Regions from separate parts of the Homo sapiens genome. Here region 1 is linked to region 2. Evidence: fine-mapped expression QTL. Tissue or cell type: stomach. Region 2 holds a variant in brackets; the other region holds the start of a gene. All regions are shown on one strand. Distances are between the middles of the regions.

Region 1 (8,108 bases), 600 kb after region 2:
AAGGGGTAACCCTGGTGCTAGGGACTTTGAAAATTTGTTTGAAGCTTTCTCAGTTGTTCAATAGAATACATTTATAATCTATCCAGCCTATCAGGTATAGTGCTATATTCCACAGAGATGGGAAATCAGAAGGGAGAAGGTTTAGAAACATGGCTTTTCTAAGCTTAAGAATCTCCACCAACGCATATGCATATGTTCATTGCAGCACTGTTCACAATAGCAAAGACATGGAATCAACCTAAATGCCCATCAATGGCAGACTAGATAAAGAAAATGTGGTACATGTACATCATGGAATACTATGCAGCCATAAAAAAGAATAAGATCATGCCCTTTGCAGCAACATGGATGGAGGTGGAGGCTGTTATCTTAAGCAAACTAACGCAGGAACAAAAAACCAAATACTTCATGTTCTCACTTATAAGTGAGAGTTAAACAATGAAAACACATGGACACAAAGAGAGGAATAACAAACACCGGAGCCTACTTGAGGGTGGAAGGTGGGAGGACAGAGAAAATCAGAAAAAATACCTATCAGGTACTATGCTTATTACCAAGGTGATGAAATAATCTGTATACGAAACCCCTGTGACACACAGTTTATCTATATAACCCATACATGTACCCCTGAACCTAAAATAAAAATTAACAACAAAAAATAAAAATAAAAAGAAGAAGAAGAATCCCCAGCAAGAGCCTAGGCTAGAGACCAGAAGTGTGGTGACAGTCAGTGAGCCAAGCATAGAGGGCCACACAGGGTGGATGTAGTCCTTGACCTACCCCCTCTTGCAACATGTTACAGGTCATCAGTCATTTCCAGCCTCATGCACCAATGACTTAACCTTTCTCTGATACTAAGTGCACATCAGACTTAGCTCAGCCACTGGGCTGCCCAAGGAGGAGGGAGAATATCCCCAACATAGGAATCCCACAGGAGACTGACCCCAGTCTGCTATTTATTCTGTGATTTGAGCCAGGGTTAGATAATGTGTGCCACACCTTGTGTTTTGAAAGGCCCTGGGAAAAGTAACACATTGGACTATTATTGGCCATTAACACTGTGTGAATTTATTATCAGAAATAAGCAAGCCTCCAGGAACTGAGCTCTGCTACGGGTGCCTGGAACAGAAAATGAACAGGACCTAGTGTTTGGATGATAGGAAAGGGGAAAGAGGAGTGGGCACCAAAAGGTAAAAGTGGAGTCCAGAAAGGGAAGGTGGGAAGGCTCACACTTCAAGATTTTTCCCTCAGAGCTAAGAAAATGCAGACTTTTGCCCCAGTTGGGAGGCAAGGGGGGTCAGCTGGGTTTTTGATTGACTGGTCAATTTGTTTCTAGTCCCAGTTATGAATTCCCATATCTCCCCTCCTCTGCCTCATAATGAGTATTTCTGAATATCACTTAGCCCCCAGAACCACCTTTTCCCTAGATTCCACCTCTTTAGAATCCATGCTTTTGGGTGCTGGGCTGTGTGTGTATGAGAGAGAGAGAGAGAAGAAAGAAAATAGAATCCATGTCTCGGAAGAGGAAGGAGGGAAGGAAGGAGGAAGAAAGAAAAGGAAAGAAGGCTTAGACCTGGGAAGCAGAATAGAATGACAGGGCTCCCTCTGATTTCCCCAGACCCTGGCACCAGCTCCTGTCCTCCAGTTTTTTCCTCTGCACATCAACTAGAGAATGAACATATGAGCCAATCAAGTCTTGACTTCCAAAGCCACAAGTCTCCCCCGCAAAGCACCCCACCCCCTTCCCTAGAGATGACCTCCAGGGCAAGGTAACAGGGTTAGGAAACAGATGGATGTGCAGAGACCCTCCAGAGCTAACCTGACCCCTGACCCCCACCAGTTCATGTCCTCTAATCCAACTTTCCAGAAGGGAGAGCAGATGCATGGGGCCCCGGTAACTTACTGGACTCCTTGGGACAAAGATTCCAGACAAAACTGTTTCAGACATGTGGGGAGATGGGGAGCTACACACAGAAGCTGGTGGAAGCCACAGGTACAGGGAGACGGGGAATCCCTGGCCATCAGAGAAACAGGGCCACAGGTGGTGGAAGATAAGGGTGGTCAGTGCCGGTTCTAGGGAGGGACTGTGTAGCCAGGGAGCAGGAGGAGCAATGGACCCGGGACTTGGACGATGGCAGGGGCGCAAAGAGCTAGAAAGACATCTCAGGGCTCTACACCTCACAGCAAGCAGAGACTTAGTGGGTGTGTATGAGAGGGACGCTAACTCACACTTCCAGGAATGAGTAATTCTTATGAATAGCTCCTCCGTTCCCAGAACTGAAGAGGAGGACAAGGGGGAGGTCCGAGGCGCCCACCGCCCTCCCAGCTGGGTCTGCCTCTCAAGTCAGAGGGACCAGCTCCCCACACGCACCAGGCGAGACCGATGTCTTCCGCCCCACTCCTGTCAGTCTGCAGCCGGCGCGGCTCCGGGTCCCCGCCGCCCCTCTGTGCACATCAGGGCCCCGGGCCCCCGACGGCGAGGAGGGGTGCCGACCCAGGGCGGCCGCCGGGAGCCCCGCTGACAGGCACAGGGGAGGGGGAGCCAAGGGAGGGGCCGGGACGCCGGTAGCCGGAGCGGCGCGCTGCAAAGTGAGCCAACACCGCCCATCCCCGCGCTCTGGGAGAAGGCGGTCCGAGGGGACCGCCTCCCACCTCCCCAACACAGACTCCCGCAACTGGGGTGAAGGCGGAGGGGCGCGGAGTTCCCAGCCCCCACGCCCTCCCCAGACGCAGCCAGCACTGCCATAACAACCAGAATCTCGGCAACTCCAGCCCCGACGCCGAGGGGGCACTGCCCCCCAACACGCACGCGGCAGCAACAGCCCTCCTTCCCCAAACTTGTCCGAGACGCCGCGTCCGAGGCAGTAGCCTTCAGCCCTGGCCCCCCGCGCCCTGCCCGGCTTACCTGTCCGGAAAAAGGCGTCCACGTCCGAGTCTGCTGCTCCTCCTTCCTCCGCTGCTCCCTCAGGGGGGTTCATGACTGTGGGAGGGCGTCCGCGGGCAGCCGGGAGCCGAAGAAGCCTGGGGCCGAGGGCTGCTCGGCGCCCGGTGGGCGGAGGGCGCGGGGCGCAGCTGCTGCGGCCGCAGAGCTGGCGGCCGCGGAGCTTCGAGGGCGGGCGTTGGGCGGCGGGGCTGGGGCAGAGGACGCTGAGCCTCCCTCAGGCGGAGGCGCGCGGCGGGCTGGGGGTGCCTGCCGCCAGCTCCCCCATGGTACCCCTTCCCCAGGGCGCTGGCCGCCTGCTGTCTGGCTGGGGCCGGGGCCCGGGGCCGGGGTGCGGGCTGCCTGGGCGCCCGCTGTCCCCCAGCAGCGGCAGCTGGCTCTCCTGCTCGCCCGTCTGCCTGTCTCTATTGTTCAGCCCTGCTCCGCTCTCTCCTCTTTATTTTTCCTCCTCCCTCCCACCCTCCCTGTCTCCCTACCTCCTCCCTCCCTCGCTCACTCGCTCACTCGCTACCTCCCTCCTTCGCTCGCTCGCTCTCTAGCTCCCCCTCTGGCTCCCGCCGCCGCCGCCGCCGCAGCAGCCGCCTCCCCAGCTCCTCCCCCGGCTCCCGCTCCCTCAGTCCCGGCCAACAATGACCCCGGGAGCGCCGAGCTGAATTGAAGCTCCGGCCGGGGCCGAGGGCTCGCTGCGGGCCCCCGGCGGCGCCTACGCCCCCAGTCCCAGCGGCCCCGCGCCGGCCTCCCGGGGAGCGGAGCCCGAGTCCCGAGCTATTGTTCGAGGCTGTGCTAGGCCGGCTTCCTGAGCTCCGCAGGAAAAGCCCGGGCCAGGGAGGGGGCGGGGCCGCCGGGCGAGCCCGGGGCTGCAGGGCACACGCCAGGCTTGTCCAGGGGGCTCTGCGGCCCGGGCGCTGCGCGCTCAGCTTCTCCGCTCGCGCCGCCGGTGCTCCTCCCGGCCCCGCGGCCACCTCCTCCGTCCACTCCACTCCCAGGTGTGTGAGGGGACCACCAGGCTGCCCGCCCGCCTTCTCTGGATCTTCAGATCGGTCTCCAAGCTGGACTGACCTGTCCCTAGAGGCCGGCCTTTCTTCCCCTCCTTCCTGACGAGCTCTCTTCTGTCTCCCTGCCCTCCTGAGCCTCTCACATTTTCCTCACCAGCTCGCCACAGTTTCTCTCCTTTTTATCTTTTCTCGTCCTTTTCCCCTTTTCAGCGCCCCTTTAAACATCTCCGCCTGTCTCTGTGACTCTTTGTCCAGTTTAATGCTCCTGTGATGTCTCCCTGCCTATCTCTCCCTCCCTCCGTCACTCTCTTGTCCCTCGTTTGTCTCTGTCCTGCCTCCGTACTTGGCCCGTATCTCCGCGCTCCTCTTGGACAGCTGTCAAAACTCTCTAATCCCTGGGGCCTTCTCGGTTTTGTTCTCCCTCATGTGAATGGAGAGATCCAGTTGGCCAGGAGGAAGGAGGTGTTACAGCAAGCTGAATTTCAATTAAAGTGGGGAGAGGGGCTGGGGAGGAATGGGGATGGCTGCAAAAAAGAAAACAGATGCTGTATGGGGTAATTAATGCGGTGATTGTATTGTGCCCATCAGTTTTTAAGCAATAATTAAACAATAATTAGCCAGTAGTGTGTTTATGGTTCTAGTGACTACAGAGCCCACCAAACAGAGGGTCTTTAAGACCTGAGTACTTAATAAGGTCTGCTGAGCGCTGTTCGCTGTTGCCTCATCCAGACAGATGGAGAAGTGGTGGCCTGACCTAATGTGTTAAAACACGCCTAATAGGAAAACCAGGTACTGGTCTGAAGTTAATGACTGCAACCCATCAGACAGAATCTCCTGGATCTGTTTGTCTCTAGTAACCTGTTTGGTTCCACCTCTCTCTGGGGGCCAAGGCAACTGGGGCCTATGCAGATCCACCAACTGTGTAAACTTGTAGCAAATAAAATGAATTAAATTAGTTTTTAGTGAACACTTTCTGGCTCCCTGTACGCATCACGTTCTTCACTGACACAAACAGTCTAATTTTTTTTCACCCATTAAAAAAAAGTACCTGTTTCCAACCTTGGATACACCTATCAGACCTGTCTCCAACCTTGAGTACATCTATCAGACCTCTGTAGTGACTCTGACATCACAAGTTCACTGCCCTGAGATCTAATTCATCTGGCCCTAGTATCTTGAACTGGCTTAAGATGCCCCTTTGCCTATGCCTTTTCTGACAATGAAAATACTTCTCATTTGTCTTTTCAAAATCTTCCTTCCCCTTAATCCTTTGCCTAACCCCTGGTCTGCTCCCCTACCCCCGCACACACATATGTGATGGCAGAGCTGCTATTAATTAATTGCCACCATTGTGCAGCTAAAGAACCAGTGGCCTGGCAAGGCATTAGCTCATCACAATTCAGAAGAAACATTACATGTTTAGAGGAAGGGTCATATCAAAATCTCAAGATATAGACAAGAAAGGGGGAACACCTTATGTAATGACACAAACTTTTTTTGAGAGGAAATTTGGCAACTTCTATTAAAATGTTAAGTGTTCATGGCTATATTAATATCAAAGAAGACTTCAAAGCAAAGAATATTACCAGGGATAAAGAGGAACATTTCAATTCATCAAGCAGACGTAACAATCCTAAGAGTGTTTGCACCTAATAAGATAGCTTCAAAGTACATGAAGCAAAACTGATAGGATTGCAAGGAGAAATATAAAAATTTATAATTATAGTCAGATAATTTAATATCTGTAAAATGCAGTAATTAATAGAATAAGGAGACAGATCATCAGTAAAGATATGGAAGACTTGAACAATGTTATCAACCAACCTAACCTAACTGACATTTATAGAATATTCCACTCCATAACAGCAGATACACATTTTTTCAAATGCACAGGTAGCATTTGTCAAGATAAACCATACACTAAGCCATAAAACAAATCTCAATAAATTTAAAAGGATTAAAATCATGCAAAGAGGTACATAAATTATACCTAAGTTGGTTTTTAAAAAAAAATCAGAGTATGTTCTCTGACCACAATAGAATTAAACTAGAAATCAATAACAAAAAGAATCTAGAAAAACCTCCCAAATATTTGGAAAGTAAATAACACACTTCTAAATAACACATGAGCTACTAAGAATTCAAAGGATGGGCTGGGCACCATGGCTCATGCCTATAATTCTAACACTTTGTGAGGCTGAGGCCAGGGGATCACCTGAGGCCAGGAGTTCAAGACCAGACTGACCAACAGGGCAAAACCCATCTCTACTAAAAATACAAAAATTAGCCGGACATGGTAGCGTTTGCCTGCAATCCCAGCTACTCTGGTGGCTGAGGCATGAGAATCACTTGAACCCAGGAAGCAGAGGTTGCAGTGAGCCAAGATTGTGCCACTGCACTTTAGCCTGGGTGACACAGTGAGACTTTGTCCCCTGCCACCCCCACCAAAAAAAGAATTAAAAGGGGGATATTAGAAAGAATCTCAAAGTGAATAAAAATGAAAACACATTACATAAAAATCTGTGGGATGCAGCTAAGGCAGTCTAAATCTGTGGGATGCAGCTGAAGCAGAAAGACATTTATAGTGCTAAATACCTATTTTGAAAATAAAGATCTCCCATCAATAAGCTCCTATTCTACTGTAAGAGCAAACGAAATCAAAGTGGAAGAACAGAAATAAAAAAGATCAGAGCAGAAGGCAATAAAATAGCAGGAAAACAAAAGAAAAAAATCAATGAAACTAAAGTGGGTTCTTTAAGATCAATAAAATAAAAAAACCTCCACCCAGACTGATCAGAAAATAAGAGAAAAATCTCAAATTACTGCTAGCAGGAATGACAGAGGTAACATCACTACAAATTCTATAAATGTAAAAATAATAATAAGGGAATATTATGAACAACTTTATGCCAACAAATTTGACAACTTTCATAAGATGGACACAAACTACTAAAGTTCACTCAAGGAGAAATTGCTAACTTAAATAGCTATTTATCTACTATAGAAATTAAATTTGTAGCTTAAAAGCTTTCCCCACACACACCCACACACAAAACAACTCAAGATTCACATGGGTTTTTTGGTAAATTTATGAAACATTTAAGGAAGAAATAATATCAATTCCACAAAAACTCTTCCAGAAAAGTGAAAAGGAGGAAATATTTCCCAACTACTTCTATGAGGCCAGCATTACTCTGATGCCAAAACTAAACAAAGGCCATATAAGAAAAAAAATGTAGACTACTTCCTTAGGAATATTTATTAGGAATAAAATTTTTAATAAAATTTTAGCAAATAAAATCTACAATATATAAAAAGGATAATACATCATAACCAAGTGGGTTTATCCCACATATACAAGGTTGGTTTCACATTTGGAAAACTATTCAATGTAACTTACCACATGATATGGGTTGAATTGTATTCTCAAAAAAGGTATGTTAAAGTCCTAACCCCTGGTAGCTGTGAAAGTGGCCTTATTTGGAAATAAGGTGTTTGCAGATATAATCAAATTTGGAATGTGGTCACTAGGATGGACCCTAATCCAATATGACTGGTGTCCCGATAAGAAGAAAAAAAAATTCCATATGAAGACAGAGAAGACAGAGACACATAGGGAAAAATGCCATGTAATGGCAGAGGCAGAGATTGGAGTGACGCAGCAGCAAAGAATACCAAGAATTGACAGCCACCACCAGAAGCTAGAAAGAGGTAAAGAAAGATTCTCCCCAGAGTCTCAGAGGGAGCATGGCCATTCTAACACTTGATTTCAGACTTCTTCTCTTCAGAACTGTGACAGAATAAATGTCTATTATTTTAAGCTACCCAGTTTGCACTACTTCGTTACAGCAACCCTAGGAAACCAATATACCATATTTAAAAAGCAATACAAGTCCGAGTATGGTGGCTTACGCCCGTAATCCTAGCACTTTGGGAGACCAAGGTGGGCAAATCCCTTGATCCCAGGAGACTGAAACCAGCCTGGGCGACATGGCATAACCCATCTCTACAAAAAATACAAAAAGTAGCCGGACATGGTGGCATGAAAGTCAGATCATGTCTCAAAAAATAAAATAAAATTTAAATTTAAAAAAGCGATACCATGTGATCATCTAAGTAGATGCAGGAAAATAATTTGACAAAAATCCAATATCCATTTCTGAACAAAACTC
Region 2 (8,108 bases):
ATCCTGTGGTGATACACTTAAATGTAAAAACAGGAGAGTGGAGGAACAGCTCCATCCTAATGAGCTATCCAAAAAGGGGCCCTTTCACCAGCATTATGCCAAAACCCCAAACCTGCTCAGACTCATCACCTATCCCTCCAACGGGCTGATGGGTCCATGAGACAGTCACAGGCTAGACAGGCTGCCAGTGGCTTATGTTCAGTTTTTCCCCCCATTGTAGGGCTAGGCACTGACTCTCTTAATTTATTGTGGTGAGGTATCCACACACTTTTGCCCATTCCCCTTTATAATCAGCAGTCTACTTTTGAAAGACTTTGCACGCTGGAAGGCTACCCAAGTCCCCATAAAATTTCCTAGTGCTGTCAAATATCCAATCAGTGTGTTCTGGGTCTCAGCATCGCGGTGTACTAGCTTCTGGGCTAACCAAATACATATCAATCACTGACTGAATGCCACTTGCCTGTGGGCCGCTGGATCAGGCTTGCAATGAGGTGAGTTTGTCTTGAATAGTTTTCAACTTTCATCAACACTGCAGCCCCCAAATGATGTATTAATTCCCTATACCCATTCCCAAACAAAGTCAAAAAGGACTCTGGGGTACAGCTTTTTAGAAACCATCATTAGCTGCAATCACATAGGAAGAATGAGGACAGGTGCAAAGGAGAAAACGGCAGACAGATGCAAGCCTGGAGCAGTGTGAAGGTGAGACACACACAGAACTGCCTCCAGGACCCCCACTTACCAGCTTGTTTTTGACCAACTTTTCTATTGCATTGACAAGGTCTGCAGCAGTAGGTACTTCAGTGGAAGCCTGCCGGGCTGCTAGCAAAGAGGAGGACTGCAAGACATCGGGCAGCAGAGGAAAAGCAGATTAGCAAAGAATAAGGAACAGTGATCAGGAAATAAAACAGAAAGTCCAAAGCTCAAGCCAGGGAAGGGAAGCAAAGTTCTGTGTTTAGACGGAAGAGGTGACAGAGGGAGAAGAGTGTGGGTGTAATACATACAGGCCTGCCCAACCCCTTATTAGGAATTCTAGCCAGCAGCAAATGGATGGTACTAGGCTATCCTTAGGCAAGCCTATGAAGGAGGGGAGAGGAGAAATCACTGACTTCCTGGGAGGCCTACAGACTAGTGTTGTACCTACTGACAGCAACAGCTTGGAGGGCGGGGGCTACTGCTCTGTGGGCAAACGAGACTTTGGCCACTACACAGCTGCCCGTTGCTGTTTTGGGGTGTGAAGGATTCAACAAACCCAGCCTTGAGTGTGTCCAAAAAAGGGAAACAGTCCTTGCTTTACTACAGCCTTAGATATAGATCTTTATTATGTGTCCAGCAAAAATGCTAGGGGCAGGACCCTTAGAGACCAGCAAGCTAGATACTCCCTTCCTATATTCTCTCCCTCTGTCTTCCTCTCCCGCTCTGCCCCTGACACACATACACCCTTACCCCTCCACAAAGCATAGCTGGCTCTGGTAAGGCCCCTGAACTGGAACACTAGGAAGTAATAAAAGGCTTTAGCAGGAGTCCTGAAGCAGCTAGGAACTACCCTGTTCATAGTAAAGAGAGACGACTCCAGGACCTCCCTGTGTCCCTTTTCCCCTGCACCAGCAGTGAGGAGTTGTCCATGTGGTTGTTTGTGTGGTCAATGGTTTGGGGCTTCCTGCTCACTGAAGGATGGTGGTTTTTTGTTTGGCTTTTTCTTCCTTCTTCTACCTGAGAAGAAACTGGGGGAGAAATAGTTAACCCTGCACCGTTTGTGTGTGCTTTTACTTCCAGCTTATCAGAGCAGGGGGCAGTGGTGTTCCCAAGGCCAGGACATAGGCTCCTTCAAGTTTGCCCCTTGGGTTAGAGAGAAAGTTTCAAAAATGAAGCTTCTCATCTAATCTAAGTTACTTTATTAAGTCTTTGCTTCTGAGATGGGAGGAAAATAATTATAATTAAGGAAGATATAACAATATTCTTTTTCCTCTCTTGGGGACTGCAGGAAAAAGCTTACGTCCATGTGGAAAATCAAGCTATCCTCTTTTTAATCTAGTAATCCTACTCCTGGGAATTTATTCCAAGGACAGAAGTCAAAAGAACAAATGCTGTATATACACAGTGATCTGTATGTAGTAGTATTAGCCATAGTAGCAAACAATGGAAACACCCTGTTAGGATGTCCCCAACAGGCTGATCAAACACATTATGGAACAGCAAATAAGCAAAATTTTCTCCAGCTATTAAAATTACAGCTAGGAAGAAAAAAATTCATGCAATTTTAGGAAATGGTAGTAAATAAAACATTGGACACAACATATGCATATTATAATTGTAAAAGTAAAACGTACACACATAAGAAAAAGATTAGAAGGAAACAAGGAGAAGACAATTGCACAATATTACAACGGTGAACTTTTAAAAATTCCTTTGACAGTGTTGTAAAAATTGTTTTAATACATCCAACTCCATTTGCTAGATGCTCTGAAGTTCATCCCACTCCCAAACATTTATAAAAAACATACAGAAATCAAACAAGCAGGAATAAGGAGAGTTCATGTATCTGAAAGGAGACTGTTGCCATCTGCCCCATTTCTGCATAAGGAAAAGGCTACACAAATAAAGGTAAGTCAGAATTCTGGGTTAAAAATTATCCAGAAACAATGTAACATCCATTTCTGTAAACAAGCTGTGTTTGAGGGAATTAGAGAGAGAAGGTGGTGACCTTATGCAAGTGGGGCCCTTGCACAGAGGGCTGTGTGAGACATGGGCACCCTACTCCTTAGGCCATGATCGCTGTTTATAAAATACATTACAAGTAGGCAGGTCTCATTTCCATCTCAAGGTGAAGCACCAGCACTTCTGTCTCAGGAACCCAGGATGGTATAACACCAGCCTTCCTACTATGTCTCTTCCCAATAATCCAGAGTCAAAGAGCTGGCCCTGAAGACAGGGCCACCAACATCACCTAGGAGGGGCCACGACTAGGTGAGTCACATCATGGGGGCAGCTGCCACATCTCAGAGTCCCTAGACTTTGTCCTTCCGGCCTAGCACAGAGGAAGACTTCAGTTAATGTCTGTGGGTTAACAATTCAAATGCAAAGCAGAGAGAATTAAAATAAGAACTGAGATGTCACCAGAAAGGACACACCCGCAGGAGGCTGTCCCACTACAGGGCAGAGCACTAGAGAGCACAGGAGAGCCTGGAGGGACAGGTAGACAAGCTGCCACATCCACTACCACCACTGCAACAAAACAGCACTTGAAAAAGCAAATGGAAAGTGCCATACAGTCAAAACCCAAACCTGCCGCTTCCACGTCCAGAGTCTAAGAGAATCAGCAACACTTAAGGCAGAAAAAAAAAGGTGATGTGAAAGCAGAGCTGCAAGGAGACTGAGTGACAAGTGAGGGAGAACATAAAGCTGCCCCAAGCCTCGGGTCAGTACCTGGAAGCACGTCTAACCTACGCTTCTGCTCCAGAACAACTGGGATGATCACCGGGTGACTGGAGACACAGGGGGCATCGATATTTCAAATACCAGTGAGCCTATGCATGCCAGCGGGCCGGGGAATCTTGCAAAGCAAAGTCAGGCAATTTCGCATATTAAGTTTGCCCACCTTTGACAATAACTTCCCCTTAGCAGCATCTTCATTCCTCATACCGTCATTGCAAAATTTGACCAACACTGGGCTTGACTGGTAGCTACCATTAGTTAGAGTTTAGAGTTGACTATAGGGAAAACAACTAACATGCAGGTTGTACAGTCAGGTACGACAAAATGGTTGTGGACTGGAACTACCTGGAATTGCTCCTTTTAGGATGTGCTGCTTCCAAAGACAGAGCCATTACCCTTTATCAACAGGACAAGACACCAGGCAGATTCCCACTTTGAGAATTCTGCACACACCCCCTCCACTGCCTAGAATGAAGTTGGACCTCCAGGGTTGGGGAAGGGACACCTACCAAATAGAGACACAATTGGTATCAACATGGATTCATGTGGACGACGAGATAACATGGGAGAAAGAGTATGACTACCCCCATCACACACAAAAAACAAAATCACGCACGGCACGTTGCTCTTTTAAGTGAGCAAGTAAAGAAGTTCTACCATTTCATCCTGTGTAGGGTCGTTGTCAAAAATCTTCATAGGTGGTGGGAGGGGTGTGTGTGACTCTTCATCCGGCTCATCTTCACCCCAACCTTTCTTGCTCTTCTAGAACAAAAGAGCAGCATTAGTTACTGTGTCACAAACATGCCAGTGGTTCTGGACTTGACATTAACAAAAATAATACATAGGAGGAGAGTTCCTCTCTCAACTCACTCTTAACTGTTCAGTCGCAATTTCCTCTTTTGATACATGGATACACCTGCTTATTTCAAATGAGAGTGAGCACCAGTGGGGAACACACACACACACACACACACCCCCAAAAAGAAGCAAAACCAGAAACTATCTATCTTATCGATTAGCAAGAAAAGAAAAAGCTGGAAGTAGTCAGAGAGAGCCTAACTTTTACATTTTTGTAGGGCTATGAAACCATAGCCCAAATGCCGCCAGGCTTAGCTGCCATTTCCAGAGGGAGAAATGGCAGGTAGCATAAAATCACAACAAGAGGGGGTCCAGTTACACATCACAAAGAATTTCTTAGCCACATCAGTGATTAGAGCAGGATTGTGTGCCAAATAAAACAGGTATCTCATTTCCCCAACCAAAACATATCCACTGTCTTTTGGTTACAGAATCTCAGCTTCATCCAGCCTAACTTTGGCTAC[A/C]GTCTCTCAAACCTTCCAGTATGGGCGTTCATTAGTTTTCATGAAGGCCCATTTAATCACTGACTGACTCCTAGATTAAACTTTTTCTTTGAGCGGAAACCCTGCCTATTGTAATCTTCATCTGTTCATCATAGTTATCTGGAGTAACTCTGGATGATCTATTCCTTTTGATGTGTGGCACTGCTCAAGAGACTTGAAAACAGCTACAATCTCCCAGCACAGTCCTGTTTTCAAAATGAAACAATCTTCATTCTTTTATTCTAAATCTAAACAGGTCTAGCTGGTTTTAATGTAGTCCTTAGTAGAGGTAGGGAACTAATGACCAAATGACTCCCCTCAGGCCCAGGTCCTATCTCCAAATCTGGCAAATGGTTTCTGTCTGCTGGAAGTCTTAGGGGCTAGTCAGCTTCTGAATCAGCCACAAATCAAACTGGCCAATGTCTTAAGAATAAAAAGAATCCAAATCACTTAGGCTCAAGGTAACACACTAATGGAGATTTGAGATGGCCTAGTTGACAAAACCTGAGGAAGGAGACATGTCAGAAGGCCCTCCTGATGGACAACTCCAGGGCCCCCTGTAAGTACCTCATCAGCGCTGTCTCCCTGAGGGGTTGTTTCATCCCCAGGCTTGGGAGATCCCAGGTCAAAGCTCTTCCGACCATCGCGAACTTTCTTCTGCTTTTTGATGTTTCCATCTGCCTTCCCGCTGTTAAGCCGACGCACAGGACTCGTCAGCCACTTCTTAAGAGTGTTGGTGGAGCGCTTGGGACCCGGGGAACTGTGGATGGAGTTCAGGGAGGGCTGGGCCTGCAGGTTGGCCACGGACTCGGACTTGCCTCCATTCTCGCTTGAGGAATGAGAGTATGCATCTGAGGAAAACGGACAGACACAGCCATGTCAGAGGTGGTGAAGGCAGGCCGCAAACCTGGGACTGAGACAGCTCCATCCTCAGGAAGCTAGGACACAAGGCAGAATGTCCAGGCCAGCTGTAGACCCCAGTCCAGAGAACCCTCTCAACAACAGTAAGAAAGGCAAACGCTCACTCAATTTTTAAAGTATGAAGCACCATTCCCGGTACTATGGATACAGGAGTGGGCAGAAGACAGAAACTCCTGCCTTCGCGGAGTTTACATTCTGGTGGGAAACACATATAATAGACTATAAAAATAAAATAAGCAAAATGAAAAGTATGACAGGTGGTGAGAAGTGCTACATCAAAACACAAAGTACGGGAAGGGATTAGGGAGTGCTGGGGTTGGAAAAGGGGGTGCAGATTGAAGAGGTGATCAGGGCCAGTCTCATGACATGACATGTGAGCCAAGGCCTAGTGGTGGTGACGCCATCTGGCGAAGGGCCTTCTGGGCGGAAGAGCAAACACAAAGGTCCCAAGGCAAGGCCTGGGGTGGCCTTGGTGGAGTAAGCCGGGGGGATCAGTAAGAAAGGAAGTCAGAAAAGCTACTGGGAGCTGGGTCAACAAGCATGTGGTAAGCCAGTGCTATGCCTCTGGCTTTTACCTGGAGTGAAAACCCACTGGAAGATTCTGAGCCAGAGTGATTCAATCTGGCTTATATTTTTAAAGGTCATTCTGGTTTCTATATTGAGGGCAAGTGGAAATAGGGAAACTGGTTGGGAGGCCACTGCACTATTCCAGGTGAGGGATGTTGGTGGTTTAGAAGTAGGGTGGTCCTAGTGGTTGTTAGAAGTGATCAGATTCTGGAGATGTTTTGCTGGAAGGGCCAATATGAATTGCTGACAGACTATGTGTGTATGGGATATGAAAAAAGAGTCAAGGGTATCTCAGGTTTTGGGTCTGAGGTTAGGATGGGGTTCCTGAGATGTGGAAGAATATAGGAGGAACAGGACTCAGGGAGGAAATATAGGAGTTTAGGTTTAGACATCTTTGAGATGCCCATTAGATACCTGAGTGGAGAAATTGAATAGCAGCTTGCCTTCAAGTCTGGAGCTCAGGGGAGAAAGTGCTGGTGAGCTGGAGATAATTGCAGAGTTGTCAGAGGAGAGATGGGGTTGGAAGCCATGAAGCTGGGTGAGATCAGCGAGAGGCATGGGTATGGATAAAGACAAAGTCCAAAGACTAAGCCAGAAGCAGGAAGACGAGAGGACAAGAAAGTAGCCAGTGAGGTAGGAGTAAAACCAGGAGGGTGGGGTGTTCTGGAGGCTGCACGTGGAAAATGTCTTACAAAGGGAGAAATCGGCGTGTCAAATGCTGCCTGATAGGTCAGGAGAGTTGACCTAAGAATTAAGTCTTAAAACTGAGCAACATGGAGATCATTGGTGACTTTGAAAAAAGCAGCTGTAGTGGAATGGAGGGGGCCATGGCCTAATTAGAGAGGATGCAAGAGCATGGGTGTGAGAAACAAGACAGAGTATAGAGAATTCTTGTACTGTTTTAAAGGCACAGTGATTGGAGAACAAGAGTTTGTTTTGTTTTGTTTTGTTTTTTAAATCTCAGCATATTGTTTGTAAGCTGTATGCCATATATTGACTATTTTCAATCGTATATGCTTGCAATAGCCTAAACATTTTATGTGGACTATCATTTCATTCTCCGTATAACTCTATGAGGTAGGTTCTGTCATTATCCTCATTTTACAGAAGAAGAAACTGCAGACTTAAAGAGTTAACTTGCTTAAGGACATACAGCTCATAGGGGCAAGGTGAAATCTGAACTGCAGACAGCCAGACTTGAGCACTAAACTACACTACTGGAGCCGGGTGTGGTGCCTCATGCCTGCAATCCCAGCTACCCAGGAGGCTGAGGCAGGAGAATCACTTGAACCCAGGAGGCGGAGGTTGCAGTGAGCCAAGATCGCACCACTGCACTCCAGCCTGGGTGACAGAGGGAGACTCCATCTCAAAACAAACAAACAAACAAACAAACAAACAAACACTACTGGGCCTTTCATGTCTACACCCGCCCAGTTCTCTAGGCTCCCTCTGAATATGGGGTTAGGGATGAGGTTTGAGGAAGAGCAAGTCCAGGGAAAGCCACGCTGCCATGGAAGAATAGAGAGGCTAGAACAGGCATGTGGCAGATGTGGGCATGCAGGAAAACCACATTGAGCAAACTTTATTTAATTTTCCCTAAATCCTTGATTTCTGAATACTCATTAAACTCGGAGGAGATCAGCATTAGCATCTACCTACCTTGGCTTTAGAGAATAGTTTTGAGTTATTCAAAAGAAAGCCCTTTAAGTCCACTTCAGATGTCTTCCTAGTTCTCAGTGCTTGTTTCTACCAGTATTGAGAAAGCTGGGCATTCGAAAGTTGCACAGGAGCATCAGCATGCAAATCAAGATCCTCAGTGAAAATTCCTAAGTAATAATTATGTCA

Evidence for each region. PIP is the estimated chance that this variant, and not a neighbour inherited with it, causes the effect.
Region 1: KALRN starts here. The variant in region 2 is fine-mapped to the expression of KALRN in stomach (GTEx, PIP above 0.99). The same link has a PIP of 0.9 or more in lymphoblastoid cells.

Annotation. Positions count from the first base shown.
Region 1 is chr3:124,028,611-124,036,718 of GRCh38, reverse strand. It overlaps KALRN (kalirin RhoGEF kinase), which reads right to left and starts at 3,350. Exons shown (of 60, transcript NM_001388419.1): 1 at 2,906-3,350. The coding sequence starts at 2,978. RefSeq lists a silencer at 3,375-3,834.
Region 2 is chr3:124,629,938-124,638,045 of GRCh38, reverse strand. It overlaps KALRN (kalirin RhoGEF kinase), which reads right to left. Exons shown (of 60, transcript NM_001388419.1): 35 at 5,343-5,626; 36 at 4,093-4,194; 37 at 743-838. Among named protein-coding and RNA genes, the nearest start is that of UMPS, 96 kb to the left of the region's middle. RefSeq lists an enhancer at 2,725-3,226. The variant A/C (reference allele first, on the strand shown) is at 4,758.